7 linked regions of the Homo sapiens genome follow. The protein of the gene in region 2 purifies or fractionates together with the protein of the main gene of each other region. This does not show direct contact. Each region holds a gene or a part of one and is shown on either strand. Other genes may lie near its edges.

Region 1 (4,766 bases), on a different chromosome or scaffold from region 2:
ACTTACTTGAAAATGTAACGCACATTGGGTGGAGTAAGAAAAAGAAAAATACACGGAATTAGTTCAACACCATGATAAGACCTGTGGGTACCACAGAGAGTACACAAACTGCCCAGAAAGCCAGGAGATAAAATGCATTTGGCTAAGAAACACTATTTTAATACCTTGGTTCTGTATTTTTTTTTCTTTTTTTAGGACAGAGTCTTGCTCTGTTGCCTGGGCTGGAGTGCAATGGCACCATCTTGGCTCACTGCAACTTCTGCCTCCTGGGTTCAAGTGATTCTCCTGCCTCAGACTCCCGAGTAGCTGGGATTACAGGTGCAGGCCACTACGCCCAGCTAATTTTTGTATTTTCAGTAGAGATGGGGTTTCACCATGTTGGCCAGGCTAGTCTCAAACTTCTGACCTCAAGTCATCTGCCTGCCTCAGCCTCCCAAAGTGCTGGGATTACAGGCGTGAGTCATCACACCTGGCCAGTTATGTATTTTAAATGCAGCCTGCCTCTCCTTCCAGTTCTATTAAGTAACCTACTGATACTAAACCTTTCCCTACAGGATGTGATACGAATTTATGATTCAAGGGGTATTTTTAAATTTTATTTTATTTTTTAAAAGATGGAATCTCTCTGTCCCTCAGGCTGGGGTGGATTGGCACAATCATAGCTCACTGCTGCCTCAAATTCCTTGGCTCAATGGATCCTCCTGCCTCAACCTCCTTAGTAGCTGTGACTATAGGCACATGCCACTGAGCCCGGCTAATTTTTAAATTTTTTGTAGAGATGAGGTCTCACCATCTTGCCCAGGCTGGTCTCAAACCTCTGGGCTCAAGTAATCCTCTCCCTTACCCTCTCAAAGTGTTGGGATTACAGGCGTGAGCCACCACGCCTGATCTGTTTGTGTTTACAGTCATGAAAGGAGAGAAACCATTGTTGTAAAAAAAATGCCAATTCAGGCTGGGCGTGGTGGCTCATGTCTGTAATCCTAGCACTTCGAGAGGCCAAGACAGGAGAACTGCTTGAGGCCAGGAGTTTGAGACCAGCCTGGGCAACACAGAGAGACCCCACCTCTATTAAAAAAAGAAAGAAAGAAAAAACCAATTCATTATATGATTTGTTTCCCATACAGCGTTTCAAAATACTGCCAAATCAAATATCAGATTTGTGTATTTTATAATGAGATCTGTCTTGAGGAACAGTGTAATGCAATGCACGTAGAGACTATCACTGGCTAAAGCCAACCTATGAATTGTTAATATTACATTCTTATAGTCTCTGTTTCTAATCTTAATGTTCAATGCCAGGTCAGTCTAGAAACCAATCTTATGGGGCATGTGGGGAAAGAATCAGATAAAAGAGGCACACAGAATGCTCGGCTATCAGATGGAAGTACAACAATCTAAACAGGAAATATACATGTACTCTGCAGTTACAAATACTGCAGACATCATCTGTAGCCTGTAAGTCTGCGATTAAGATAAACAGAAAACCAGATGCTGGGAGGAAATATTCTGAAGAAAGGAGTTAGGTCATGGAATTACCTGGCTCTTCTTTTAAACCAATTGGTTTTCCGCTTGAACACAAAGCTGTACTCATCACTCTGTCCATACGCGATCACAATATCCTCTAGTTCTTCCATCACAGTCTGCGCACATTTGGTCATCAGCTGGAGAGCACGGCTGTCATTGGGTTTTGCAAAGTTGTGCTTCTCAGCAAACCTTCACAGGGGAAAAAGGGAAGAAAGCATGGATGGAAGCCTGTCATTAACAACACGCTCTGTTGCTAGATAACAGAGGCTGTTTGGAGGAAGATAATGTAATAGCACTGTGAACTCAAATGCTCAACTAGCCACAACCTGATCCATTTTCTTAAGAACTTAGTTTTTTTCCTGCCCTGAAATTGAGAAAGCCAGACAGAAATGCTAAGCCTCAACTCTCCTTTCTGTGAAATGGGAATAAAAGAATATTTACCTCATTGGGTTGTCCTGAAGATTAGGGAGAAGATAAAAGTAATCATACCTAGCTCCTAGTAAGTGCTCAATAAATGTTAGTTATAATAATCATTAACAATGCAGCCCTCTTCAAAGATTAAATTCCCATCTTTCTGTTATATTTCTTTCTCCCCCTCCCTCTTTTTCTGAGACAGGGTCTTGCTCTGTCACCCAAGCTGGAGTGCAGTGTCCAATCACCGCTCACTGCAGCCTTGACCTCCCAGGCTCAAGCGATCCTTCCACCTCAGCCTTCCCAGTAGCTGGAACTACATGTGTGCACCACTGCGCCGGGCAAATTAAATTTTTTCTTTTTCTTTCTTTCTCTCTTCCTTCTTTCTCTCTCTCTCTCTCTTTTTTTTTTTTTTTTTTTTTTTTTTTTTGTAGTGGCGGAGTTTCACAAACAACAACCACAGAAAAAACAAAACAAAAACAAAAACTTGGTCTCCAACTCCTGGCCTTAAGTGATCCTCCTGCCTCCCGCGCCCAGCCTTCTCTTTTTTTCTGACTCTCTGTTGAATCTAGTCCATGTGGCCTGTTACTGATAATGAAGCACAGACGTTAAGTATTGCCCACAAGCAAGGCTTACACAGACTTCTGAACAGTCAGCATTCAAAGATATCTAACAGAATAGCTAGGCAATTGGCTTAAGAGCTTAAATATTGTGCATGAGAGTGACTTTTAACAACAGGTCCTTGCTAACAAGTCTCTGTTCACTTAACACGGGCACTCCAAGCCAGATCCTCATCACGGGAGCACATCGCCCATTCAATTACGCTAACAGCCAGCGTTCAGGCACTGTCCTAGCCAACACGCAGGGCGGGGCAATGCTCCATGCTGCGCACTCATTGGCTACCGCGTTACCCTGGTAACCGTGACTGGAGCGGGCGGGAGGACTTGCAAGGGAAGAAGCTGGATTCCCCGGAAGCGCTGGCGCATCGCGACGCCCCGAGTCGAGCTCGCTCACCGATGGAAATTCCGGCCGTCCAGCCGCACTACCACCCAGCAGTGTGCCAGGCAGGTGTCGTCAGCCTCGAAGTCCCTCACGTACTCGAACTTGCTTTTTGCCATGGTCGCCCCCAATCTCAGGTACCGTCTCAGAGTGATGGAAATGGTGGCCAAGGAATCGTGAACCTTAACTTTACAGGCGCCCCACATTCTACACGCGGAAAGGAAAGGGCCAGATAGCCCCGCCCCGGAAGTGTTCTCTTCGCGGCTACTCTAGCCGTAGGGCAGTCATAGTCTCTCTCGCCTCTCCCTGTAGTTCTTAACCTCCCAGGCAAAGAGGATGGAGGTTTAGGTTCCTCCGTTAGCACCTTCCACGCTTGCTTCTTCCTCCTCCCGTCCTGCGGCAAATCAGTCTCACGAGGTTTTTAAAAATTATTTTTTATCTGCTGGTCTTGACTTACTGGCAAAAGCAATCAGTGTCCCCGTTAGTGCCCAGATCAAAATCATACCCCAACCTAAAAAAAAAAAAAAAAAAAAAAATTCTTTTTCTGGTGTTTGAAGGTGTAGCTGTGATGTTTCCCCTTTTCTTAGTGGCATTTATTAACTTGTAGAAAATCTGGAATACACCAAAACTATAGTTAAGAAAATTAACACTTTGTTTCTCCGTCTTTCCCATCAAAGCATTGTGGATGGTTCCTTTCAGTCTTTTTTCTTTTTGTGTATGTAGGTTTACACAGGGAATGCACAAGATTGGAATTATTCGCCTATACAATGTTTATATATTTTTCCACTCAGCTTGAGCATTTGCCAGTATCATCAATTATTCCAAAGTGTGATTTTTAAAAGAAAAATGGACTCAATATTCCAACATATGGGTATACTAAATTGATTTATTCAACTTTTTCACCATTAAATAATCACAGAACCAGTGTTTGATATCTTGTTGCTGGTGGATAATAGTAAAAATAAAATCCTAATATTTGTGTCATACTTTGTGATTTACAAAGCTCTTTCAAATTCATTACCTACTTACTTACTTTTTTTTTTTTTCCATCCTCAAGAAAGATATTCAGGCCAGGCACGGTGGCTGACGCCTGTAATCCCAGCACTTTGGGAGGCAGAGGCAGGAGGATTGCTTGAGTTCAGGAGATTCATACCAGCCTTGGCAACGTAGCAAGACCCCTGTTCCTACAAAAAAGAAAAAAAATTATCCAGGCTTAGTAGCCCATGCCCGTAGTCCTAGCTATGGGAGGATGAGGTGGGAAGATACTTGAGGCCAGGAGTTCGAGACTGCAGTGACCCATCATTAGCCACTGCACTCCAGCCTTGGTGACAGAGCAAGAATCTGTCTCTAAAGAAAAAGAAAAATATTCAAACAATATAAATCCTTTTATATGTAGCAAAAAGTCTCTCACTGACTCCTAACAACATACTTTAGGCAGTTACTGTTACCAGTTTTTTGTGTATCCATACAGGGATCTATATCAGTATGTGTGTATATCCTCATAATAGTACCACAAATGGTAGTCATCACTCCTTTGATGCTCAGAGTAACATCAGAGGGATGCAAAAGAGGAACTGGGATTTCACCTTTACAAAGGGGAAATCTGAGACTCAAAGAGAAAAAAATAATTTACATAAGGTCACATATGTGGCAGGACCAAGACATAAATTATGACATCCTGCATCTTTTCTTTGTTTCTGTTGCTGTGAAGTCAGTTTTCTGTAGGTTATCATTCCTCACCTTTTACTTCCACAAACTCCTCTCTCCAAGCTGACCAGGAGACAACCAAATCTTGCCTCCTCTAGGAGCCCTACTTTCATTAGGTGAATTTT
Region 2 (4,020 bases):
GGCTCAGGTGATCCTCCCACCTCAGCCTCCCAGAGAGCTGGGACTACAGGCATGTGCCACTAAAATTAGCCCAGCTAATTTTTTTTTTTTGACACAAAGTCTTGCTCTGTCACCCAGCCTGGGGTACAGTGGTGTGACCTTGGCTCACTGCAACCTCCACCTCCCAGGTTCAAGTGATTCTCCTGCCGCAGCCTCCTGAGTAACTGTGATTATAGATGCCCCGCCACACGCCTGGCTCATTTTTGTATTTTTAGTAGAGACAGGGTTTCACCATGTTGGTTAGGCTGGGCTCGAACTCCTGACCTCAAGTGATCTGCCTGCCTTGGCCTCCCAAAGGTGCTGGGATTACAGGCGTGAGCCACCATGCCTGGCCTAATTTTTTGTATTTTTTGTAGAGACAGGTTTTGCCATTTTGCCCAGGTTGGTCTCATACTCCTGGGCTCAAGCGATCCTTCCACCTCGGCCTCCCAAAGCTCTGGGACTATAGGCATGAGCCACCACATCCAGCCAATTGGCTGCTTTTGACAATGAAGCCAGGGCACTGGGGAAGGGCCTGCAGTGACTCACAAGTGAAACTAGCAAGAACTTTTCCAGACTTAAAAAACAAAAAAGACCGCCCACAGCCTGCAGGTTGGAAGCCCTCCTCCCCTGGATGCTGGGGGAGCCCACCTACCAGCCTTGAAGCTCAGCTCATCATGCTCCTGCCCCTCATAGTCATACAGGGCCCGGACTCGCACTTCCGTCCCCGAGGTGGCGTCGTCGTCGAATGGATTCGAGTCCCCATTGGCATCCGTGGAGGAGAAGGGGTTGTTAGACTCATCGTCTGACCAGTCGGTGGGATAGCTCTGGGTCTTCTCGTAGCTGCTCACACTGCAAGAAAGGGGAGGCCACAGGGCCCTCAGCACAGGGCGGCAGAGGGTGTGAGGCCCCCGCCCCGCAAGGGGAGGGCACTGGAGCCTTGGGGCTCAGGGCTGAGGGCTCCTTCCGAAGGAGCACAGGTGGAGCCAGTGCTAGTGTGAGTTCATGCCATCCACACTCATCCTGAGCCATCAACAGGCTTTCCAGGGGCAGGCGGCTGGAGATGCCCACAGCAGAGGCCAACCTGGGGCCTCACTCTCTAGTCCCCAGCACAGACTGCGCGTTGTCTGTTTTCCTGTCATGGTGCTGCTAGGGCCTTGAAGGGTTAACAGAGGACAGAGAAAAAGCAACTTAAGATTGTTAGCTGTGCCCTCCCCGAGGAATGGGGGTGCCAGAGAGCCTGTGCCAGAGAGCAGGTAGTGGGCCAGGGTGCGGCACGCCAGGTGCCCACTTCCTGCAGAGCTCCGTGCATTGCCGAGTGCCGAGGGGTGAGACCCCTGGACAGAGAGAGAGGAAGAGAGACAGAGTGAGCGCGGTGGGAGCAGAGGAAGCATTTGTTCACCAACTTTTTGGCCTTAGTGTCGTCCTTCTCACTGACGGTGCTGCCCGTGTCGTCCTCATCCTCGAAGGGGTTGTAGCTGGACTGTGACTGCGCAGACTGGGCGGGGTTGCTCGGGACATTAAGGGTGCTATGGAGAGAGAGAGCTTTCAGGGGATCCCAGCTCTGCAGGGGCCCGTGAGGGTCCTGGCAACTCCTAGCTGCAGGATCTCAAGAGACAAATCAGCTCCTCCTGTGACCGGAGGGGACCGTGGTGTTTCAACAGAAAGGTTACTATGGCAGAATGCGGGCAATACTTCAGCTGTGAAACACGGTCCAGGAGCCTAGGAGAGGACTTGGTTTCCCTTTTCCTTCCTTGCACCTGGAGACAGTCCGTCCAGAACAGGGGCCCTGGGGTGGCCCAGGGGCGGGTGACAAGCCACAGCTGGAGCAAAAGTCGTTTCCAGGTTCAGGGCTTCTCCTCTGTCCTGACTCCCACCAATGTGAGCTGGGGGGGTCAAAAAGCCCCTCAGGGTCTCCTCTGAGAGTGACAGTGTGGGAGGGGCCGGCTCCCATGGATGAGTGGGAGAGGGCTCTGAGCTCTTCAGCCCACACGGCCTCCTCCTGACTACTAAGGGGTTCAGGGCTCGCTCTTCTGCTCTGTGGAGCTGAAGCCTCCAAAATCAGGGCCAGGGCCTGCGGCACCGTCTTTTCTAGATAGAAAGAAGATTCCTTTGGTGCTCCAGAGGGAAAATCCAGTCGTGCAACTGCCTACTGTTTGCCAGGCCCAGTGTGGGAACCAGAGAGATCTGGGCCAAGCTCTGCCTGAGGGCTGGGAGCCGGGAGCTGAGTTACACACTACGAAGACCACAGGCAGACCATCAAGCAATCCAATCAGACAGGCACCAAGGGCCCTGGCACCCCACCAAGTAACTGATCCTAGGACCGGGCTACCCTGGCCAGCAGCACCTTCTACTTCCAAGACCAGGGCCTCAGGGCACAGGCCCCCAAAGCACTGGATGGACTGCTCAGCCTGAGCACCCACCACCCCAGAACCAAGGAAGGGAGGCGAGGACATGCCTCCAATGCCACCAGGGTGATCCTGAGTGGCCAGTAACTGCCTCATCCACTTCAGCCTGGCAAGTGGTACTTGACCTAGGCCTGCTGGAGGCCAATATCCAGGCCACATGTCTGAGCTCACCGGCCCTCCTCCCTCCTTGGCACCTTTCTCTAGCAGACTGTTGTGAGACGGCACTGGTGGGGGCGGCTGGATTGTGCAGCAACCCTGGCCAGCCCAGGGCCCCCAGGGTCTCCTCTGAGGCAGTGTTTCTTCTTTCCCATTCCCACCCCCAAGCATACAGGTGCTGGCCTGATCCCTGGGACAGGCACTTACTGCCGAGCCCACCTGCCCAGACAGCGTGCAAAGCAGCGGAATGACGACAGCCACACCTGCTGGGGAGCCTGGGTGGGGGCTTCAGTGCCTGGGGCTGCAGGAAGGCCAAGGGAACCTGGGCTAAGCCTTCTTAGGAAGCCCCCGTATGAAATGACTATTACTGAGTGTCACATGGAGGCCTGTGGGCAGGTCCTATAGGAAGACCTCCTCTAGCACACACTTTCCAGAAGGTTCTAATGACCACAGTGCCACCCTTATATCTCTCATTTTCAGCCAATGACTAAGTCAGAAATAACCAATGCTCCTAGTGAAGAGGTAATTTGGAAAGGAGATGCCTGGCAGTCCTCTCCTGTCCCTCCCTCGACTGGCGCCTGCACACAATACAGAGTGAGCATGAACCTCGGCAGGACCTCAGCTGCCTGAGGGAACCAGGGTGGCACCTCCACCAGTGTCCGGGCAGGGCGGTGCTATCCCTGGGGACATGAATGCCAGCCCTGTCATCAGCTCCTCCCCACTCAGGTCTGAAGCTCAGGGCCAAGCCTCCCTCTCTGGATCTGTCAGCAGCTCTGGCACCAGGCAGGAAGACGACCTTCCCTGGAGATGCCCCTGGGCCACGGCCCACAGAGCTCAGGAGCCCAGGAACCTCCCAGGTGTCCAGGCTGGGCCACGGCCCACAGAGCTCAGGAGCCCAGGAACCTCCCAGGTGTCCAGGCCGGGGCTGCCCTGGACCATGCAGATTGCCCAGGGCCCCCACCATGGAACGGCCTCTTTTGGATGGAGGTGGCGCCCACTCACCTGCTGGGCTTACTCGGCAGAGACTGGTCGCCTGTCTGGTTGATGCCCGTCAGGGTGACGCCGTCAGTGGCCTTCTTCTTCTCTCTCCGGCTGAGGGTTCGATTCAGGTCTGCGGACCACTCCTAGGCAACAGGTGCCGAGGGAGAGAAACCAAAGGTTCACTACTTGCTGGAAGCCACGTCTGTCCTCAGTTCCTGCCCAGCGAGCCTGCAGTTGGCTCTGTGCATCTGATGTGTAGACTCAGGGCCCCAGCTCTCCCTGGTTTCCCAGAAGACCTCAGGCTCCCCATGCCCCACTTATGAACCCAAACGACCTGAGCCCCTCCTCACTGTTCAAAGCAGGGGCTCATCAGGGGATCTGGAGGCTTGCACCTCTACAACCACCCCCAGGCCATGCTGCCCACCTCCCAGAGGACCAGCGGGGGTGGCGAGGACCA
Region 3 (4,020 bases), on a different chromosome or scaffold from region 2:
TGTAGTCAGGGTTGTGGTAGAAGCTGCAGCATTTACAACAGTTGGAGCAACAGGAATGGTCACTGCCGTAGGAACACTGTCCTTTTCTTTCTCAGTACTATCCTCAGCCCACAAACGATTTGAGGTACTATAGCATCATAAGCAGCAACACAAAAAAGAGAAAAGGAAAACAGCTAAACAATGAAAGCACTTTCTAGCAGCTGAAAACACATGACTACAGGGATGGATTTTTTTAAAACGCAAGGTGAGACATCCTTAAATTATGAACCAAAAAGCTCACCCAGAGTTGTCAAAGAGAGAAATTTACATTTTAAGCAGTCTAATTCAAGGAAAGTTCATAGTTCAGGAACTTAAAATTTCCCCCAGACATGCATAATTGCCTCATTTTGGAACCAATTTTTGTCTGCAAATAAATTTAACAAGATAAATGAAAAAATCCAGAGCCCCACAATCTTCTAAACAAAAACGCATGCACATACATAAGCACACAGTAGACCTGAGCACAAAATGTATCTGTGACTTACCTGCTTTGTGTGCCTGCTGAGGAAGAACCCGTTGTAATCTTTGTAGTAGTGCTTGTGCTGGAAAGCAGGCTTTTCTGAAGCCCAGCTGCAGAGGTAACTGTTGGTGTTGATGTGGTGCTTGGAACACTAGAACTAATCAAATCATCTTGTCTTCTACCAAAGGAGCAACTAAACAAAAGAGTCATATCTATATAGGATGTGTTTGTATGTGTATTCTATAGTTAATGTCTATACATTATATAAATTACAAGGCTAGAAAAAAAATTTAAAAACTGTGTTCCTAAATACACCACCAGCTCCAGCACCAAGAGTTGCATCTACAACTTGCTAGAGTTTAGAAGATTTCACTTAATTCGGTAGTGTATCATTTTAGTGCCTCCTCCCAACTTTCTCAACAAGACAAAGATGATCTGATATTTCATATTTTTGAAACTATTCCACACCATATGGTCATGCCAGGCTGAGCCTGAAAAACACACTTTGGTTTTGTATTACCCAGGGAAAACAAGACGTTGACATTTTTTTGAAGGAAATTATTTCAGCAATGGGTCAGATACCTCGGAAGTAACCAATGCCTACATGATACTTGTTCACATCTTATTCTTTTTGGTTGCTTTTAGTAAAGAAATTGTTTATAGGGCTTTTTTTTCCTCTTCAATATGATACTACCAACATTCCAACTGAAGGCATTTCCATAGCTCTGAGTTCTAGGGCAAGCCAAATCTTTCCAGATCAACAATGACAACTAGATCCATTAAGACACTGGCCTGTTTAAGTTGTTCTAGTCAAGGAGTTCCTTCTAAAGGAGTTCCTTTTAAATATGTAACAATCCAAAAAACATTTCATAATATTTGAAGCTTAATTATATAATAGGCATAACAAATTATCACCTATCTTTAAATATATATCCTGTGTTTAGAGTAAGTTTTAAACAACAAAAACTCGTATTTAATAAAAACACATATTTGTTTAAAATGATGTTAAACTGAGGGCTCCAAACAAATTGCCTCATATTTTTATAAATGAATACATAAAAACCGCTTAAGAATAGTATTATTACCTTTTATGATACGTTGATCCTTCATTAACTGAGCTATTTTTTTTAAGATCATCTTCCCATTTTCTCCTTGTATATGAACTACTTGTTCGCAAACTTGAAGAATCTCTGTTAAAAGAACACCCTTCAGATTCTGGTACATAATTTTAAAATAGGATTAAGAAAGCGGTACACTAGTAAATATTAGTATAAGCTGAAACTAGTAAAAACCTTTGGGAGGACACTTAGGAATACTAATCAAGAAGATAAAGTAATTTCAGTACTAAGATTATATACCCTAAGGTATAATTTTTCCCCTAAGTATGGGGGAAAATTCAGATATTTATAGAAATATGCTTTTTGATCACAAAATATAAAGTAGGGGAGATGCTTACTTTAACCGCAGAAGATCTACTTTATAGTATGTTATGTGCCGACAAAAAAAATGCTTATTAAAAATATATATTAACATAGAAGACTGCTTATGAGATCTTAGGGGAAAAAAATAAAAAAATTAGATATTATAACATGATTAAAAGTATATTAAAAAGTTATTGGCCGGGTGCAGTGGTTCACACCTGTAACCCAGCACTTTGAGAGGCCGAGACAGGTGGATCACAAGGTCAAGAGTTCAAGACCAGCCTGGCCAAGATGGTGAAACCCTGTCTCTACTAAAAATAAAAAAATTAGCTGAGCAGGGTGGCAGGTGCCTGTAATCCCAGCCACTTGAGAGGCTGAGGCAGAGAACTACTTGAACCTGAGAGGTGGAGGTTGCAGTGAGCCGAGATTGCGCCACTGCACTCCAGCGTGGGTGACAGAGCGAGACTCTGTCTCAAAAAAAATAAAAATAAAAATAAAAATAATTAAATTAAAAAAATAAAATTCTATAAGCTGAAAAACAGGAAGAAACTAAAATATTTAAACAATATTTAAACAAAAATATTTAAAACAAACTAAAATGATTAAGTAAGGGCTTTCCTTCTTCTTTCCCCTTTCCTAAATGTTCCAAATATTTAGAGAACTCATACTAGTTCATGACCTTATCTCCTCCCACTTTCCCCTTACTCTGTTCCAGCCACATCTTCTTTGCTATTATTTCATGAACATACCAAGCCTGCACCTCCTCAGGACTATGTACCTGGTATTTTCTCCTTCAGGAATATCCTCCATCTCTTCCCACAATACATATCCGCACATAATTACAATGCTCATGTATTAACTCTAATGCTAGATAATAAAGATTTTATAGTGAATGCATAAAGCAAATCAAAATAAACTCACCTGTTTTCTTTCTCTTCAATGTCAGATGTACTGGCTAGTCGTCTTGGTATTGTAGGTGCAACATATGCAAGCCTAGTTCCTTTACTATCTTTCTCCTACACAACAGGGAAAAAAATAAGTAAAAATTAATTTGGGTACTGACTATAGGCAATGCTAAAAGTATTAAGAAAAGGTTATTCAATAATTATAATTACATAGCTATCATAGTTTACAGTATTTCAACAATTCCTAGCTGAACTCTAAAATTAATGTCAATCAATAATCAGCCTGTTCAAATTAGTTTTCTTTCTCTTTTAGCCTGGAATCAGATAATATTTTACTAAGAAAGGAAAAAAATTTCTCCAGATTTTAATGACTTTTTCTAAAACTTCTCTAACAGATTAATACTGTGTCATAAGCTGAAATATCTTTATTTCTTCCAGAGAAATAAACTTTCAAATATTGTTCACTGAGAGGTCTCAAGCATTTATATTATATAAGCTATTTAGAACCTTGATAATCAATGCTCTCAAATACATCAAAATAGTCAAAACAAATATTATTTAAATTATATTTATCCAAATATGGCTAAGAGTGTGTAGTGACAATGACACTCTGATACATTCCTAGTAAGCTGGCATAAAATACCTGGAAACCAACTGCACAGTAAACTGATAAAAAAGCAAAAATATTAGAATTACTTGATGAGAAATTTCATCTGAATTTCTGATATAAGGAAACATTTCTAAGTATAGAAAGAAAACTGTATGGGCAAAAAAAATAGTTCAAGCACTGAATATGCTGTAGAAATAAATACTAGTATTGAATAAACTGTGGTACATCCTATATAATGCAGTATTAATACCACCTCTCAAAATAGTTATTAAATTTACTCATTAAGACAAAGTTGCTTGTAATATGGTAGATGAAAAATCTGGTATTTTTTTTCAGATACTGAATAAATGTAACTTATGAGTATACTAACATTCTAGAATAAATGTGTTCCTATGTTTTTTAAACTTCAGAAAGTTTCTTGAATCATAATAAACAAAATAAGCCTGCTCCTTAATACAGTTCTATTATAAATTCTCAAGTAAGGTAATAGATTCCTTTAACGGAGTATAGTCCCATAATTTATGTTTTAGGCAAATACATCTGATCTTTCCAGTATTTATAATTCTGTATAAATTACATTTGTCT
Region 4 (3,847 bases), on a different chromosome or scaffold from region 2:
TCCCCCTTCCTAGAGGCGCCTTCTCATCCTCTCTGCAGGCACTTCTCAAGCTATTGCAGAACTACTCTTATTTCATGACGGTCCAAGAATAGACATGGTCTTCAAGGCAGGGCCCGTCCAGCACACCAACGGGGCCACAGTCCTGGAGACTCCATGCTCCACCCCTCCCTCCACAGATGCCCAGAACCTCTTTTCCCACAGTGACCATAGCCCCCGCGACCATCTGACCCCCGAGCTGGCTCTGGGAGGCCACAGGAGCCCCTGTGGACGCAGCCACAAATGGGCCAGGTGCGGAGGGACCCCAGTCCACAGCGGCCAGGGGGTCCTGGGGAGCAGCTTTAAAAGTGGGACCAGCAGGACAGTCAAGGCTGGTGGCCTCAGGGACTTTGGACTTGGCCAGCCTGGTGACACCGGAGCAGCTCTGGAGCTGTGGCTTGTCCCCACCACACCAGGCACGGCCCTCCCCTCCCCACACAGGCAGCCGGAGACACCGGCCCTGCAGGGGGGGTCGCTGCCCTCCCCACGCTCCTGCGCCCAGCGCTCTGCAGTGGGCCCTCGACGGCCTCCACGGCCGCGTCCCAAAACCGCCCTCCCCACGCCCCTGCGCCCAGCGCTCTGCAGTGGGCCCTCGACGGCCTCCACGGCCGCGTCCCAAAACCGCCCTCCCCACGCCCCTGCGCCCAGCGCTCTGCAGTAGGCCCTCGACAGCCTCCACAACTGCGTACCAAGCACAGTGACCATCCACTTTTGCCCCCCAGCCAGACCTCAAACACCCAGAAGTGAGAAGAGCTTTCAGAGTGGTTTTATCATTAAATTAATATCTAATCACATAATTCAAAGATATAAAAATTGGAATGTAGAAGGTGGGGCAAGCCCCTCCCTCAGGACTGGAGGCGGCAGCAGGGACAGAGCCGCACTGAAGCGGGTGAGCGTGCGAGAAACATACAGCCGAGCAGGCTGCCCCGAACACTCAGTCCAGGGTGGAAGCATCGCCCCGGCACCCCCCAACCCCCGAGCCCACTGCGCAGCCCACAGGAAGAGTGCAGGCTTTTCACATTTCAGAGGGTGGGGTGGGGTGGGGTGGGGCGGGGTGGGCCCCTGGCTTTGGGCTGCCCTCCAGCAGCCCCTGAAGGACACAGGCGGTGATGGTGGGAGAAAGGCCCCCTCTCCCAGGGAGGCCTCCTTGTCCTGAGCTTGGGCTGAGGTCTCTGTTCCAGTAACAGATGCTGGTTTTGTTTTGTTTTTTTTTTTAAGACAGGGTCTCGCTCTGTCACCCAGGCTGGAGTGCAGTGGTACCATCAGAGCTCACTGCAGCCTGCGCCTCCTGGAGTCAAGCGATTCTCCTGCCTCAGCCTCCCAAGTAGCTGGGATTACAGGCGCCCGCCACCACGCCCAGCTAATTTTGTATTTTTAGTGGAGACGGGGTTTCACCATGTTGGCCAGGATGGTCTCGAACTCCTGACCTCAGGTGATCTGCCCGCCTCGGCTTCCCAAAGTGCTGGATTATGGGCGTGAGCCACCACGCCCGGCAGGATGCTGGCTTTTAGTTCATTTAAATAGAAAATAAACCTGAACTCCACAGACACCATCCAGAGTGATTACAGGTGGCGTCCAAAGGTCAAAGGGCAGCCTCCACAGGGTTTCCTTCCTGGTTCTGAGACTTCCCAGGGACAGCAGAACTTCCTTGCACTGGTCCCAAGGAAGCCCCTCTTGGCCACCCTGAGAGGTGTTCCTGTCCCCAGATGCCCAGGAGGAGCAAGAGTGTGGGGACCGGCCCTTGCCGTTCCTCCTCCAAGTCCACCCACTTCCTGCCCCAGGGAGATCCTGAGGCCAGGAGGCAGGCTGGCCCAGGCAGGCTGATGGCGGAGGGTGGTGGGGAGGGTGGGGGGGCCCTGGACTTTCCCTCCCAGTCCTGGCACCTTGCAGGTGGAGAGGGCTCTTCAGGAAGGCATAGTTGGCCTCCTGCAGACGCGCACCTGGCCGGCAGGCACGAGGGTCTGCTGAGCCTCGCAGAAGTCCAGGAGGCTACGCCAGAGGGGGCAGCAGCGCAGAAGGAGGTGGTCTCCTGTGAGGGTGGGAGTCAGATGGGAGTCAGTCAGGGTCAGGTGGGAGGAGTCAGGGTCAGGTGGGAGGAGTCAGGGTCAGGTGGGAGTCAGTCAGGGTCAGGTGGGAGGAGTCAGGGTCAGGTGGGAGGAGTCAGGGTCAGATGGGAGTCAGTCAGAGTCAGGTGGGAGGAGTCAGGGTCAGGTGGGAGGAGTCAGGGTCAGGTGGGAGGAGTCAGGGTCAGGTGGGAGGAGTCAGGGTCAGATGGGAGTCAGTCAGAGTCAGGTGGGAGGAGTCAGGGTCAGGTGGGAGGAGTCAGGGTCAGGTCGGAGTCAGGGTCAGGTGGGAGGAGTCAGGGTCAGGTGGGAGTCAGTCAGGGTCAGGTGGGAGGAGTCAGGGTCAGGTGGGAGGAGTCAGGGTCAGATGGGAGTCAGTCAGAGTCAGGTGGGAGGAGTCAGGGTCAGGTGGGAGGAGTCAGGGTCAGGTCGGAGTCAGGGTCAGGCAGGAGTCGGCAGCTCCCTAGCCCAGCCCTGGCCTCACCTGTGTTCCCACCCTGGAAGAGCCCAGCCCCGCCCTCACCGATCAGGCAGAGCCCCTCCTGGGCCCGCGTGACAGCCACATTCACTTGGTTGGGGTCCACAACGAAGCCCAGAAACTTCTTGAGCCAGCTCTTGGTGGGCCGCTGGTCCAGGTCGCTCTTGGCACAGGTGCGGACGGTGCTCACCAGCACATAGCGCCACTCGCTCCCTGCGGGATGGGAGGTGAGGCCCTGCTGCCGCTGCGCCCACCCTCCCGGCCCCACCCACGAGCCCCCAGCCTCACCCTGGCTCTTGGTGATGGAGGACACGGCCACCCCGGCGATGCCCTCTCGCCGAAGGGCCTTGCTGATCTCAGAGGCCTGCGCGTTGTAGGGCGTGAGGACGGCGATGTCCTGGGGCTCTACGGTCCTCCCCAGGGTCAGCTGCTTGGTGATACGGACCTGAGGAGCCGAGGGGGCAGGTGGAGCGGACCCTGGTGTCTCTCCTGCCCTCCTCCAGGAAGCCCTCCCTGACTCACAAGCACCAGACACTCACCACCTCAGCCACCTCCTCCAGAAAGCCCTCCCTGACTCACAGGCACCAGACACTCACCACCTCAGCCACCTCCTCCAGGTTGGCCTTGGAGTTCTCATTCCCTTCGTCCGTGGACACCAGCAGGCTCCGCTCGTGGCCCTGCACGTGGCCAAAGATGACAGGGCAGCTCTCCTTGCCAGCGTGGCCCAGGACACTGGGCGGCCTCCTCAGGCCCTGCCACGTCTTCAGCTTGCTCTTGTAGAACGCCACAGAGGGGAAGGCACAGATGCCCTCATGCTGCAGGCAAGGATGTGCGCTGGTCAGAGGCTGCCACGCGGGGTTGTGGCCCCCCAGGGGCTGCAGGTGGGCTGGGGGCTGAGTGGGGCGGGCTCACCATGCGGTACTGAGTGTCCAGCATATGTGCGTCCTCGTGGTACCGCTCGAACAGAGACCGGTCCAGACCCAGGTTTTGCAGCCGCTCATTCTTGACCACAGGCCGCAGCTGCTTGTGGTCTCCGAGAAGAACCACCTGGAGGAATAGGCAGGCCTGGCCCTGACACCCCTAGACCCAGAGGGACCCCAGCCCCACACGACACCCGCGTCTGCACACACAGGGCACCCCAGGTGGGAGACTGTGCCAGGGACGCCTGCTCATGCTGCCCACACCCCCCGCCGACCAACCTTCTCGGCCTGTGGGAACTGCACCAGGGGGATGAGGGTTTCAGGTTCCGTGGCCATGCCTGCCTCGTCAA
Region 5 (4,020 bases), on a different chromosome or scaffold from region 2:
GGGAGGAAAAAAAAAGATTATTCGATTCAGCATTTCCAGAAGCACAGAAAGTAGGTCAGTGAATTTGCACTTTAGAAATATCATAATTACTTGCTAAAAACAAATTATTTCCACTGAGGGGCCTCAAAATCCAAATGGCACTCAATTTGAATCCATGAAGCTTAAGAAACTAAATTTTTTTTGAAAATCAATTATAATGGCTGAGCCTGGTGGCTCACACCTATAATCCCAGCACTTTGGGAGGCCGGCAAAAGTTCAAGACCAGGCTGGGCAACATGGCGAAACCCCATCTCTACAAAAAATAAAAATTAGTGAGGCATAGTGGCGTGCGCCTGTAGTCCCAGCTACACAGGAGGCTGAAGTGGGAAGAACACCTGAGCCTGAGCCTGGGGAGGTCGAGGCTACAGATCACGCCGCCACACTCCAGCCTGGGCAAGAGAGAGAGATCCTGTCTCAAAATAAAAAGGGAATGATCTTCACGATCCATCCCAAAACATATTGGAGATAACCCTACCTTTAGCTAACTATCCCCTGAAAAACAAGAGAGTATTTACTAAGTAGAACACATTGTTGGATAGCCATTCCAAATTGCTCTAACTTTGCCAAGCTTAAATGGCAAGGAAGAAACCAATTCCTGGCTCCCCTATTTGATAACTTACATACTTCTGCAGGCTCTTAAGCCAAAATGAGCCAAAATCTTAAAGAGAGTTAAGACTGACATAGACATTAGCAAACATATCACCTTTTTTTCCTATTAACATTGTTGTTCCCCATAAAGGTCTATTCAGCATTTTTTTTTTAGTAGCCCTCTGTAGATATCAAGAAATGCTCATAAATTTAGCCTGTAGTTCCTCAGGCTCAATGGCTTGTGAGAAAAGAAAAAAAAAAAAAAAGTTGGAAATACTGTCTTCTCTTCCACAATGCCCACGAAGCTAGGCAAAGGCAATGATTCTGCATTTAATCACTAGATGAATAAGAAACAGACTTGAATTTAGAAGAAAGATAAAGGACCGCAAGAACATTCAGTAAAGAGTACTGCCTCTATTTCTTTGCAAAGCAGCTCTCAGGATCTGCCAATGAACCTCATTTTGACATGGAACGCCCCATCCACTCTAATCCGGGGCATATCCCTCAAGACACAGTCAGTCAACCGGAACTCTGCCAACTTTTGCTTGGGAGTTGTGTGAAGAATAGTAGCAACAAGAGCCTACTTTGAGAAGGAGATCAACAATCACACTCAAGAAGAAAAGAAGTTATTTGGCAAAGGGATGCATGTTGCCAAAATGTTAGTCACAGCTTCAAGGGCCCAGTTTGTGTCTCTACAACTATTCTTTGCTTTGACAGAGGCCATTATCTGACCCAGGAAACAGCTCAGCTTCTGTCACCCTCCCCATCTGAAGCAGTGAAGAATCCTTTCAATTTGGTAGTATCAAACTGTGACACAGACAAGATGTCCACCAGAGACTAAAAGGGGAGAAAAAATGTGTAATTTGCCACTTTCTACATAGGACTGGCTCAAGCAGAGCAACGGAAAACTGTGACAGGATAGGAAAAATGGAAAATCATTATGTTAAAGAAGCAGGCTGGGCCGGGCGCGGTGGCTCACGCCCGTAATTTCAGCACTTTGGGAGGCCGAGGCGGGTGGATCACAAGGTCAGGAGATCAAGACATCCTCGCTAACAAGTTGAAACCCCGTCTCTACTACAAAAAAAAAAAAAAAAAAAATACAAAAAATCAGCCGGGCGTGGTGGCAGGCGCCTGTAGTCCAGCTCCTCAGGAGGCTGAGGCAGGAGAATGGCGTGAACCTGGGAGGCGGAGCTTGCAGTGAGCCGAGATTGCGCCACTGCACTCCAGCCTGGGGGACAAAGTGAGACTCCGTCTCAAAAAAAAAAAAAAAAAAGAAAAGAAAAGAAAAAAAAAATAAGCAGGCTGTACCAAAAGTCCGCCCAGGAGCACCGAGCCTCCATATGTTATCTCAAAATCCCCTTAAAAAACAAACCAAAAAGGTACACTGTAGGTTGCAATAGCATAATATTAAGCAGGTTTTTACTCCCAAATAAGTACATATATTTTGTAGCCTGCAACTCTTCCTGGGGTTGTAAGAAGACTATGTTTGCTGAAGCTGCCTGAACCAAGAGCCCATGAATTTCACAGTTATTTCAGAGCAGGAAAACAGACTAACATATACCAGGTTACTCTCCCAATCAGAGAACACAAGTAAAGAAAGAACATTTAATAATTTTCTCGGGCCGGGCGCGGTGGCTCACGCCTGTAATCCCAGCACTTTGGGAGGCCGAGACTGGCAGATCACAAGGTCAGAAGTTCGAGACCAGCCTGACCAACACAGTGAAACCTCGTCTCTACAAAAATACAAAAATTAGCCAGGCGTGATGGCACCCAGCTACTCAGGAGGCTGAGGCAGGAGAATCGCTTGAACCTGGGAGGTGGAGGTTGCAGTGAGCAGAGATCATGCCATTGCACTCCAGCCTGGGCAACTGAGCGAGACTCCGTCTCAAAAAAAAAAAAAAAAAACCCAAAAAAAAATTTTCTCTTCAACAGAACAAGACTTCTGTCTCTTGCCTCTTGCCTTTTTTTTTTCCTAAAAACACCTAGTGAGTCTAGAATCTCTTCCCTTCGTAAAAGCCATCAGTAAAACCTGAAAACTCCAATGTTCACACCTCTCCTGCATTTCACCTTGGTGCTATCACATAACTTATCAGTACCAGCTAGGGTAAACACTACTCTAGTATCAAGTGTGAGGTGGAATTAGTAAATGACCAGCCTGGCCAACATGGCAAAACCCTGTCTCTACTAAAAATACAAAAATTAGCCAGGTGGCACATGCCTGTAATCCCAGCTACTTGGGAGGCTGAGCCAGGAGAATTGCTTGAACCCAGGAGACAGAGGTTGCAGTGAGCCAAGATTGTGCCATTGCACTCCAGCCTGGGCAATACAGCAAGACTCTGTCTCAAAATAAATAAATAAACAAATAAAAAAACAAACACTACATTCTACTAGTCTTCATCAATTGACTTCATTCATCTCCACCTTCCCCAACTCTTAACTTCCCTATCTTCATCTTGATGGCAACCAATGTAACACAATATGAAATTTTTACTTTTAAAAGTTGACATTAATAAGAGTTAAAAAACTAAACATGCGGCCAGGTGTGGTAGCTCATGCCTGTAATCTCAACACTTTGGGAGGCCGAGGTGGGTGGATCACCTGAAGTCAGGAGTTCGAGACCAGCCTGACCAACATGGTGAAACCCCATCTCTACTAAAATACAAAAAATTAGCTGGGCGTGGTGGTGCATGCCTATAGTACCAGTTACTTGGGGGACTGAGGCAGGAGAAGCGCTTGAATCCGGCAGGCGGAGGTTGCAGTGAGCCAAGACTGCGCCATTCCACTCCAGCCTGGGCAGCAGGAGCGAAACTCTGTCTCAAAAAAAAAAAAAAAAAAAAAAAAAAAAAAAAACTGAATATGCATCAAATCAAAACCAGTTCTTCCCTGGCTGGCACGCAGACACACACACACACACACAAACACACACACACATGAGCAAGGCTAAGAGGAAGAAACAGAAAAACATGTTTCCTTTTGTTGTTGTTGTTGTTGTTGTTGAGGTGGAGTTTCGCTCTTGTTGCCCAGGCTGGAGTGCAATGGCGCGATCTCAGCTCACTGCAATCTCAGGTGATCCACCACCTTGGCCTCCCAAAGCGTTGGGATTATAGGCATGAGCCAGCGCGCCCAGCCTTGTTTTCCTTTAAGAGACAGGTCGGCCAGGCGCGGTGGCTCACACCTGTAATCCCAGCACTTTGGGAGGCCAAGGTGGGCAGATCACGAGGTCAGGAGTTCGAGACCAGCCTGGCCAATACGGTGAAACCCTGTCTCTACTAAAAATACAAAAATTAGCTGGGCGTGGCAGCACGCGCCTGTAATCCCAGCTACTTGGGAGGCTGAGCCAGGAGAATTGCTTGAACCCAGGAGACAGAGGTTGCAGTGAGCCAAGATTGTGCC
Region 6 (3,017 bases), on a different chromosome or scaffold from region 2:
CGTCTCCACTAAAATACAAAACATTAGCTGGGTGTGGGCTCCTTGGGCAGCTGAGACACGAGAATTGCTTGAACCCGATAGGCAAAGGTTGCAGTGAACTGAGATCGTGCCACTGCACTCCAGCCTGGATGACAGAGCAAGACTCTGTCTCAAAAAAAAAAAAAAAAAAATCACACACACACAAACCAAAATGTTCTCCTGTGCTTCACTGCTGCTATGGAGGTTTTTGTTTGTTTTTCTCCTGTGGGCCCTCGCTCTGACTGGGCAGCACCGCATGGTCTGGGCAGGGCAGGGCAGGGCAGGGCTGGCCCCGCAGTGGGGACGGCCCACAGAGCCCAGACTCTTCTCACACGCAGTTTATTTTGCAGGACTGCCCACAGTGGTGAAACTGGTAGACAGAAACACCTTATTAAAAGAGAGAGAAGAAAAGAGACGGGTGAGTAAAGTGAAAATGACTTAAGCGTGATATTTGTTGAAAATGTAAAAACCATTGCGATTATTACATAGTTTACTTTTTAAGCATTGATGTTTACACTTTTATTAAAATCCCAGTATTTATAAATGTCAGAAAGAAAAATTAACTAGTATCTTCTAATGAAGGACCTCTTTTAAAAAGATTATTCCCTCAGTTTAAGTGAAAACCAGTCACTTTTGGCAAACTGTGAAGCTGACTTTTTTTTTTTTTTTTTTTTTTGAGACGGAGTCTCACTCTGTTGCTCAGACTGGAGTGCAGTGGCACGATCTTGGCTCACTGCAACCTCCACTTCCCTGGTTCAAGGGATTCTCCTGCCTCAGCCTCCCAAGTAGCTGGGACTACAGGCACGCACCACTGTGCCCAGCTAATTTTTGTATTTTTTTAGTAGAGATGGGGTTTCACCATGTTGGTCAGGCTGGTCTCAATCTCCTGACCTCGTGATCCACCCACCTTGGCCTCCCAAAGTGCTGGGATTACAGGCTTGAGCCACCACGCCTGGCCCGAAGCTGACATGTTAAGATCCCAGTCCCACCGTGCCCTCACCTGAGTGGCGCGTGTCACTGATGCATCTCCACCTCCTATTCCCAGCATACTCCCCACCTGCACCCCACAACGCCCCCAGGATCAGGGATGGCCCAAGTTCCTCGGTGCCCAATAGGACAGAAGAACAGGAACAAAAACGCAATGTCAGAATCTCTGGGCACAGCGCATGGGGTACCCTGGGATGCAGGCAGCAGGATGAGAGGCACCTGGGCCCCCAGTGCACACCATGGGAGGTGGGCCATGGGGGCTGTTGCCACCAGCAGGTGGGTCCCCAAGAGGCTTAAAGCAGGAGACCACCGTGGAGGGCGAGTTTGGATGCCACAGCTCTCAGGAAGGAGGCTCTGGGAGGAACTGAGGAAGGAGAATCGACAGGGTGGTTGATTGATAGATGGGATGTACAAGGTCAGGGAAGGCATCTATGCCTAGCCCTGCACTGGCCCAAGGCACGAGGGGAGAGCTCATGCCAGATCCAAGTGTGGGTGGCTGGAGTTTGCAGTGCTTTGGAGGAATAACGAACTGGAACTCTGGGGAAAGCTCTAGACAGTGGTGAGTGGTCTGCAGGTCCATCCTGGTTGGCAGGTTGGGAAGAGCTGGGCTTGCCCTGTGAGGTTGGCTGGTGTGACTGCCTCATCAGGGCCCCTCCCCATTCCATCACAGTCACTCACCTAGCCTTGGGTCTCGCCTGCCGTGCTGTGCTGTGAGGTGGCCTGGTGCTGGCTGTGCAGACGCCCTGGCTTGCTGCACTCCCTGGCAGAGTGCTCAGAAGCAGGAAACAGACAAGAGGAGCGCCAGGGTGGCCCGGCCAGAGCCTCACAGGCCTTGCACTCTTTGTGCTGGCCTTTCCACTGGCCACCTTGGCTGTGGCCTGTGACTTCTAGTAGCTCCTGTTTCCCAACCAAGGGACTCTTACCTCACCAAGCTGCTGCAAGAAGGCATCCCCAGGCCCGAGGCACCATGGGGGAGGGGTCCTGCCTCTCCCTGTACCATTCCCACCAGCACATAAACACATACTAACTTTTAAAGGGAAAAAGCAGAAATCCTGAGCACTGTGTCTCTGGTTCCTCCAAGCTCAGTGCCCAGCTCCTCCCCCACCTCAGCCCCTTTCCCTCGGCCAGCCCTGCTCTCCCTCCATCTATCTCGAAAGAGCTCGATCCTGTTGGCCCCAGCCCCATCCTGAGTCTCTGAGACCTTTGTGCCTTCCTGGTTTCTTTTCCCTAGCTCTGTGTGTGGCGCCTCCCCAGGAGACCTTATCTGGTCCTGCGGCTTCTCCACCATCTATCTTGTAGCCGGTGGCCCAAAAACAGTTTGCCCAGCTGCCTACCTGATAGCTCCACTGGGCCAGGAAGCCTCTGATATCTAGGCTGTCCAAAGTAAATGTGATTTTCAACTCCCCAAACTTGTTCCTCCTTCCTGCCATGGAGGGCGTGCCTACCTGATAGCTCCACTGGGCTGGGAAGCATCTGAAACCTAGGCTGTCCAAAGGAAAGGTGAAAATGTGATTTTCAACTCCCCAAACTTGCTCCTTTTCCGTCAGTGGAGGGCATGTCTGTTCGTGCAATGGCTCAGGCCAGAACCTCCCAAAGCAACCGAGGGCTTCCCTCACCGGCACCCAGCCTGCTGGCTCCACTAATAAGCTCTCCCTGCAGCATCAGACTGTCCTCGCCCCTGCCCGGGTGCTGCCTGCTGGTTGGAGTGGGCTCTGGTCTCCTCACCTAGCCCCCAAGGCTGCCCTCCGCCCACCATCCCCATCCTGCCCTGGCGCTCTTGCTCCTTCCCAGGTACCCCAAGACCCACTCAGGATAACCCTCACAGTGCTGTCCTGGTCATTGCCTTACAGATCCTCTCTCCTTGGGCCAGGCTCACCATGCTGGTCCATTTCTTCATGTTAGTGGTGCCTGGATCTTTTAGCATTGGTTCTGTTTGTCTGCCTGCTGCATACCTTTGCATCTAGGGCAGGGCCAGGCACCCAGGGGTGCCGCTGAGGATCCCCAAAGGGAAT
Region 7 (4,020 bases), on a different chromosome or scaffold from region 2:
AAATAAACGAAGGAAGAAAGACATATATAAATAAATGTAAAATAAATTCATGGACTGGAAGATTTAATATAGTAAAGCTGTAATTTCTTCCCAAATTGGTACACAGGATTAATGCACTTCCTATTAAAATCTCAGCAAGACTTTCTTTTTTTTGCATAAACAAGATTATTCTAAAATTTGTATTGAAAGGTAAAGATAATAGAATAGCTAAAACACTTTGAAAAATAAGAATAAAGTAGAGGAATCAGGCTACCAGATTTCAAGACTTACAATATAGCTAGAGTTGGCAAGATTCTATGGTATTTGCAGAGGGACAGACACATGGAAAAATGGACCAAAACAGAGACAACAGAAACAGACCCACACAAATACGTCCAACTGATTTTTGACAAAGACGGAAAAGCAATTCAATGGAAGTAGGATGGCTTTGTCAACAACAATGACAACAACAAAAGAACCTCAATCTAAGTCTCACATCTTACATGAAAATTAACTCACAGTGGATCACGGACTTAAAGGAAAAACATAAACCTGTAAAATGTGTAGAAAAAAAAAAACCAGGAAAGCCGGCGCAGTGGCTCACGCCTGTAATCCCAGCACTTTGGGAGGCCAAGGTGGGCGGATCACGAGGTCAAGAGATTGAGACCATCCTGGCCAACATGGTGAAACCCTGTCTCTACTAAAAATACAAAAATGAGCTGGGCATGGTGGCGCACACCTGTAGTCCCAGCTACTCAGGAGGCTGAGGCAGGAGAATCGCTTGAACCTGGGAGGCAGAGGTTGCAGTGAGCCAAGACTGTGCCACCGCACTCCAGCCTGGGTGACAGAGTGAGAATCTGTCTAAAAACAACAACAACAACAACAACAACAACAAAGAGAATCACTTGAACCTGGGGAGCCGAGATCATGCCATTGCACTCCAGCCTGGGTAACAAGAGCAAAACTCCATCTCAAAAAAAAAAAACCTATATATAAAATACTCAAATTCTTGAAGACATTTGACCAAAGAGGATATACAGATGGCAAATAATCATATGAAAAGATGTTCAACATCATTAGCCATAAGGGAAATGTAAATGAGAACTAACGGGTGAATGGTTAAATAAACAGACTGTGTGGTACATCCATACCATGAAATACTACTTAGCAATAAAAAACAATAACTATTGATGCATGAAATGAGGATGAATCTCCAGAGAATTATGCTGAATAAAAAAAAGTTCAAAATCTTAAGTACTGCATGAATCCATTTAAATAACACACATGAAATATCAGAGAACAGATTAGTAGTTGTCACAGATTAAGGATGTGGTAGGGGTGGGATGGTAGTGAATACGATTATAAAAGGGCAACATAAAAAATCCTATCATGATGGAAATGCTCTGTATCTTGACTGTATCATTGTCAATATACTGTTGTGATACTGTACTATAATTTTGCAAGATGTTACCATTAAGGAAAACTGGATAATGGCTACATAAATCTTTGTTTACTATTTCTTACAACTAGATGTGCATGTAGAATTACCTCAAAATGAAATGTTTAATTTTTTTAAAAAGCCCAGGCTTTAGGACAAAGCTAGATGACTTTGGGTAAGTTGCTTCCCTTATTATAGGGCTAAATTACTACATTAAAAGATCAATGGTCTAAGCATAGTGCCTGGTACAAAGTAAGTGCTCAACAGATGGCTACTAAAATAATCCTAAAAGTCATGGCAGTGGGGATGAAGAAGCGTATAACAAGATATTTAGATGATACCACTAATGGGTTTTGGTGACAGATTAGATGTGGGATAGTGGGTGACGGGGAGTCAAAGATGATGCCCAAGTTTCTCATCTGAGCAAGTAGGTGCTTAGTGGCACTGTTTACTGAGCAGATGTGGAGTGAAGAGATGAACAAAGAAGAGTTTAGTTTTGGAAGTGGTGAGTTTGTGTTGACTGGGAAACATTCAAATAGAGATGCCCAGTTAACAGTTGGATATGTAAGTCTGAAGTTCAGAACACAACTCTGAGATGGAAATTTAACTTGATGACCACCATGCAAATGATAACTGAAGCCAGTAGAATGGACAAGGTTGCCAAAGGGGAGAAACCACACAGCCACTATGACTATAAAGGAGCTTCAACCTTTAAGGACTGGATAAAAGGGTCAGTCTAGCAAAGGAAATATAGAGTAGCCAGAAAAGGAGAAATAACAGGCATTTATAGTGTCAGCCAAGATAAGAGGAAGGTGTTTTAAAAAAGAGTGGTCAACTATGACCAAGCAGTGAAGAGATTAATTAAAATGAGGAGTAAAAAATCATCCTCTGAGTTTAGTGACCTGGGTATCGCTGGTGCCTTTGTCAGAATAGCTTTGGTGAATAACAAAGTAGGTTTCCACTGGAGCCGACTGAGAAGAAGGTGGGAGAAAGGAAGACTGCATAAACCACCACCAAGTTTATCCCTGAAAAAAAGTAGGTAGTACAGAGAGGGAAAGAAGTTGAAGATGTGTTACAGGATAAGAATTATTTGAGTAGGGAGGAGAAGATATGATTCAAAGTATAAGTAGCAGGATTAGCTCAGATAGAAGTGGCACTTCATCTACTCTAAGAAAAGGAAACAAGAAAGGAACCATGCAGGCTGGGCGCGGTGGCTCATGTCTGTCTGTAATCCCAGCACTGTGGGAGGCCGAGGCGGGTGGATCACCTGAGGTCAGGAGTTCAAGACCAGCCTCACCAACGTGGTCAAGCCTCATCTCTACTAAAAATACAAAATTAGCCAGGTGTGGTGATGCATGCCTGTAATCCCAGCTACTTGGGAGGCTGAGGCAGGAGAATCGCTTGAACCCAGGAGGCAAAGGTTGCAGTGAGCCCAGATCGTGCATTGCACTCCAGCCTAGGCAACAAAAGTGAAACTCTGTCTCAAAAAAAAAAAAAAAAAAAAGGAAGAAAGAAAGGAACTATGCAGATACAAGTAAATTTGAAAATGTGGCCATTCATCGTACGTACAGACAACTACTCCCTCATCATTTCAATTTTCCTTTGAAGGAGAAGGCAAAGCCATTGCTAAGACTGAAAGACTGGATTAATTTTTTTTTCTGTTTACTGGATTTTTATTCCAAGCACCTGATCCAGTGCCTGGGACATAGATTTAATAAGTATATTTAATAAATATAATGGAAATAAACAATTACTGTTACCTTAATGCAGTAGTTCTTTACAATTTGTGCACAACTTTCTTCAAGTTAGCCACTAGGGGGTAGTCTGCCAATCTTATTCCCTCAATCTTTTAATCCAGTGAAATTGATAGAAAACTACAATGCAGTGTAGGTCATATTAATAAAATGTTTTTCCTCAAGAAAATTCTGTTTAATAATTATATACATGTACGTGTGTATGCATTTGCATGCACGCGCATACACACACAAATACACTGAGGCACGATGGGAGGGTTGTTACTTCTGCCGGCCTCCCACTGCAGCCATATCAGGATGCCCCAGAGGCAATAGTCAGCATTTTCCAGAGACACTTTTTGCAATTTCTCCAGGGCACTCAGTAAATAGCAGATAGGTCTCTTATACTTATACTTAATTAACTAGAAAAGGCTGATGAAAAAAATCCCTGAAAACTAATTGCTCAAACATTTGCCTTTGCTTCTTCTAAGATGTTTTTCCCCTCTACACCTTCCCGTCTTTCCGAATTAAGTAAGTTTTTTTGTTTTTCTTTGAAATGGAGTCTCGTTTTGTCACCCAGGCTGGAGTGCAGTGGTACGATCTCGGCTCACTGCAACCTCAGCCTCCCGGGCTCACGCGATTCTCATGTCTCAGCCTCCTGAGTAGCTGGGACTACAGATGCCCTCCATGACGCCCAGCTAATTTTTATATTTATGGTAGAGACGGGGTTTCACCACATTGGCCAGGCTGGTCTCGAACTTCTGACCTCCAGTGATCCACCCGCCTCAGCCTCCCAAAGTGCTGGGATTACAGGCATAAGCCACTGCGCCCAGACTTCAAATTAAGTCAGTTTTTTAAAAAATCGTTTTA

What was found.
Region 1: the proteins of PACSIN2 (region 2) and THG1L purify together in Homo sapiens (affinity purification with mass spectrometry; 3 studies listed by BioGRID and IntAct, with this or other methods). This does not show direct contact.
Region 3: the proteins of PACSIN2 (region 2) and PPP1R12A purify together in Homo sapiens (affinity purification with mass spectrometry; one large-scale study listed by BioGRID and IntAct). This does not show direct contact.
Region 4: the proteins of PACSIN2 (region 2) and HELZ2 purify together in Homo sapiens (affinity purification with mass spectrometry; one large-scale study listed by BioGRID and IntAct). This does not show direct contact.
Region 5: the proteins of PACSIN2 (region 2) and WIPF2 purify together in Homo sapiens (affinity purification with mass spectrometry; 3 studies listed by BioGRID and IntAct, with this or other methods). This does not show direct contact.
Region 6: the proteins of PACSIN2 (region 2) and CARS1 purify together in Homo sapiens (affinity purification with mass spectrometry, with the first as the bait; one study listed by BioGRID). This does not show direct contact.
Region 7: the proteins of PACSIN2 (region 2) and GAB2 purify together in Homo sapiens (co-immunoprecipitation; one large-scale study listed by IntAct). This does not show direct contact.

The regions. Positions count from the first base shown.
Region 1 is NC_000005.10:157,729,815-157,734,580, reverse strand, and holds the start of THG1L (probable tRNA(His) guanylyltransferase), read right to left. Parts: upstream 3,162-4,766; 5' UTR 3,141-3,161; coding exon 2,950-3,140; intron 2,783-2,949; exon of another isoform or gene 2,572-2,782; intron 2,152-2,571; exon of another isoform or gene 1,971-2,151; coding exon of another isoform or gene 1,966-1,970; intron 1,714-1,965; coding exon 1,537-1,713; intron 6-1,536; coding exon 1-5. UniProt on the Homo sapiens protein: Adds a GMP to the 5'-end of tRNA(His) after transcription and RNase P cleavage. This step is essential for proper recognition of the tRNA and for the fidelity of protein synthesis.
Region 2 is NC_000022.11:42,875,464-42,879,483, forward strand, and holds part of PACSIN2 (protein kinase C and casein kinase substrate in neurons protein 2), read right to left. Parts: intron 3,707-4,020; coding exon 3,585-3,706; intron 1,548-3,584; coding exon 1,425-1,547; intron 871-1,424; coding exon 674-870; intron 68-673; exon of another isoform or gene 1-67.
Region 3 is NC_000012.12:79,805,642-79,809,661, forward strand, and holds part of PPP1R12A (protein phosphatase 1 regulatory subunit 12A), read right to left. Parts: intron 2,937-4,020; coding exon 2,842-2,936; intron 1,690-2,841; coding exon 1,585-1,689; intron 693-1,584; coding exon 525-692; intron 128-524; coding exon 1-127. UniProt on the Homo sapiens protein: Key regulator of protein phosphatase 1C (PPP1C). Mediates binding to myosin. As part of the PPP1C complex, involved in dephosphorylation of PLK1. Capable of inhibiting HIF1AN-dependent suppression of HIF1A activity.
Region 4 is NC_000020.11:63,557,306-63,561,152, forward strand, and holds the end of HELZ2 (3'-5' exoribonuclease HELZ2), read right to left. Parts: coding exon 3,777-3,847; intron 3,625-3,776; coding exon 3,490-3,624; intron 3,393-3,489; coding exon 3,174-3,392; intron 3,023-3,173; coding exon 2,866-3,022; intron 2,791-2,865; coding exon 2,623-2,790; intron 2,066-2,622; coding exon 1,941-2,065; 3' UTR 781-1,940; downstream 1-780. UniProt on the Homo sapiens protein: Can degrade highly structured RNAs through its concerted ATP-dependent RNA helicase and 3' to 5' exoribonuclease activities. Shows a strong preference for pyrimidine over purine residues for its nuclease activity.
Region 5 is NC_000017.11:40,222,112-40,226,131, reverse strand, and holds part of WIPF2 (WAS/WASL-interacting protein family member 2), read right to left. Parts: intron 1-4,020. UniProt on the Homo sapiens protein: Plays an active role in the formation of cell surface protrusions downstream of activated PDGFB receptors. Plays an important role in actin-microspike formation through cooperation with WASL.
Region 6 is NC_000011.10:3,002,785-3,005,801, reverse strand, and holds part of CARS1 (cysteine--tRNA ligase, cytoplasmic), read left to right. Parts: intron 1-368; coding exon 369-436; intron 437-3,017. UniProt on the Homo sapiens protein: Catalyzes the ATP-dependent ligation of cysteine to tRNA(Cys).
Region 7 is NC_000011.10:78,411,187-78,415,206, forward strand, and holds part of GAB2 (GRB2-associated-binding protein 2), read right to left. Parts: intron 1-4,020. UniProt on the Homo sapiens protein: Adapter protein which acts downstream of several membrane receptors including cytokine, antigen, hormone, cell matrix and growth factor receptors to regulate multiple signaling pathways.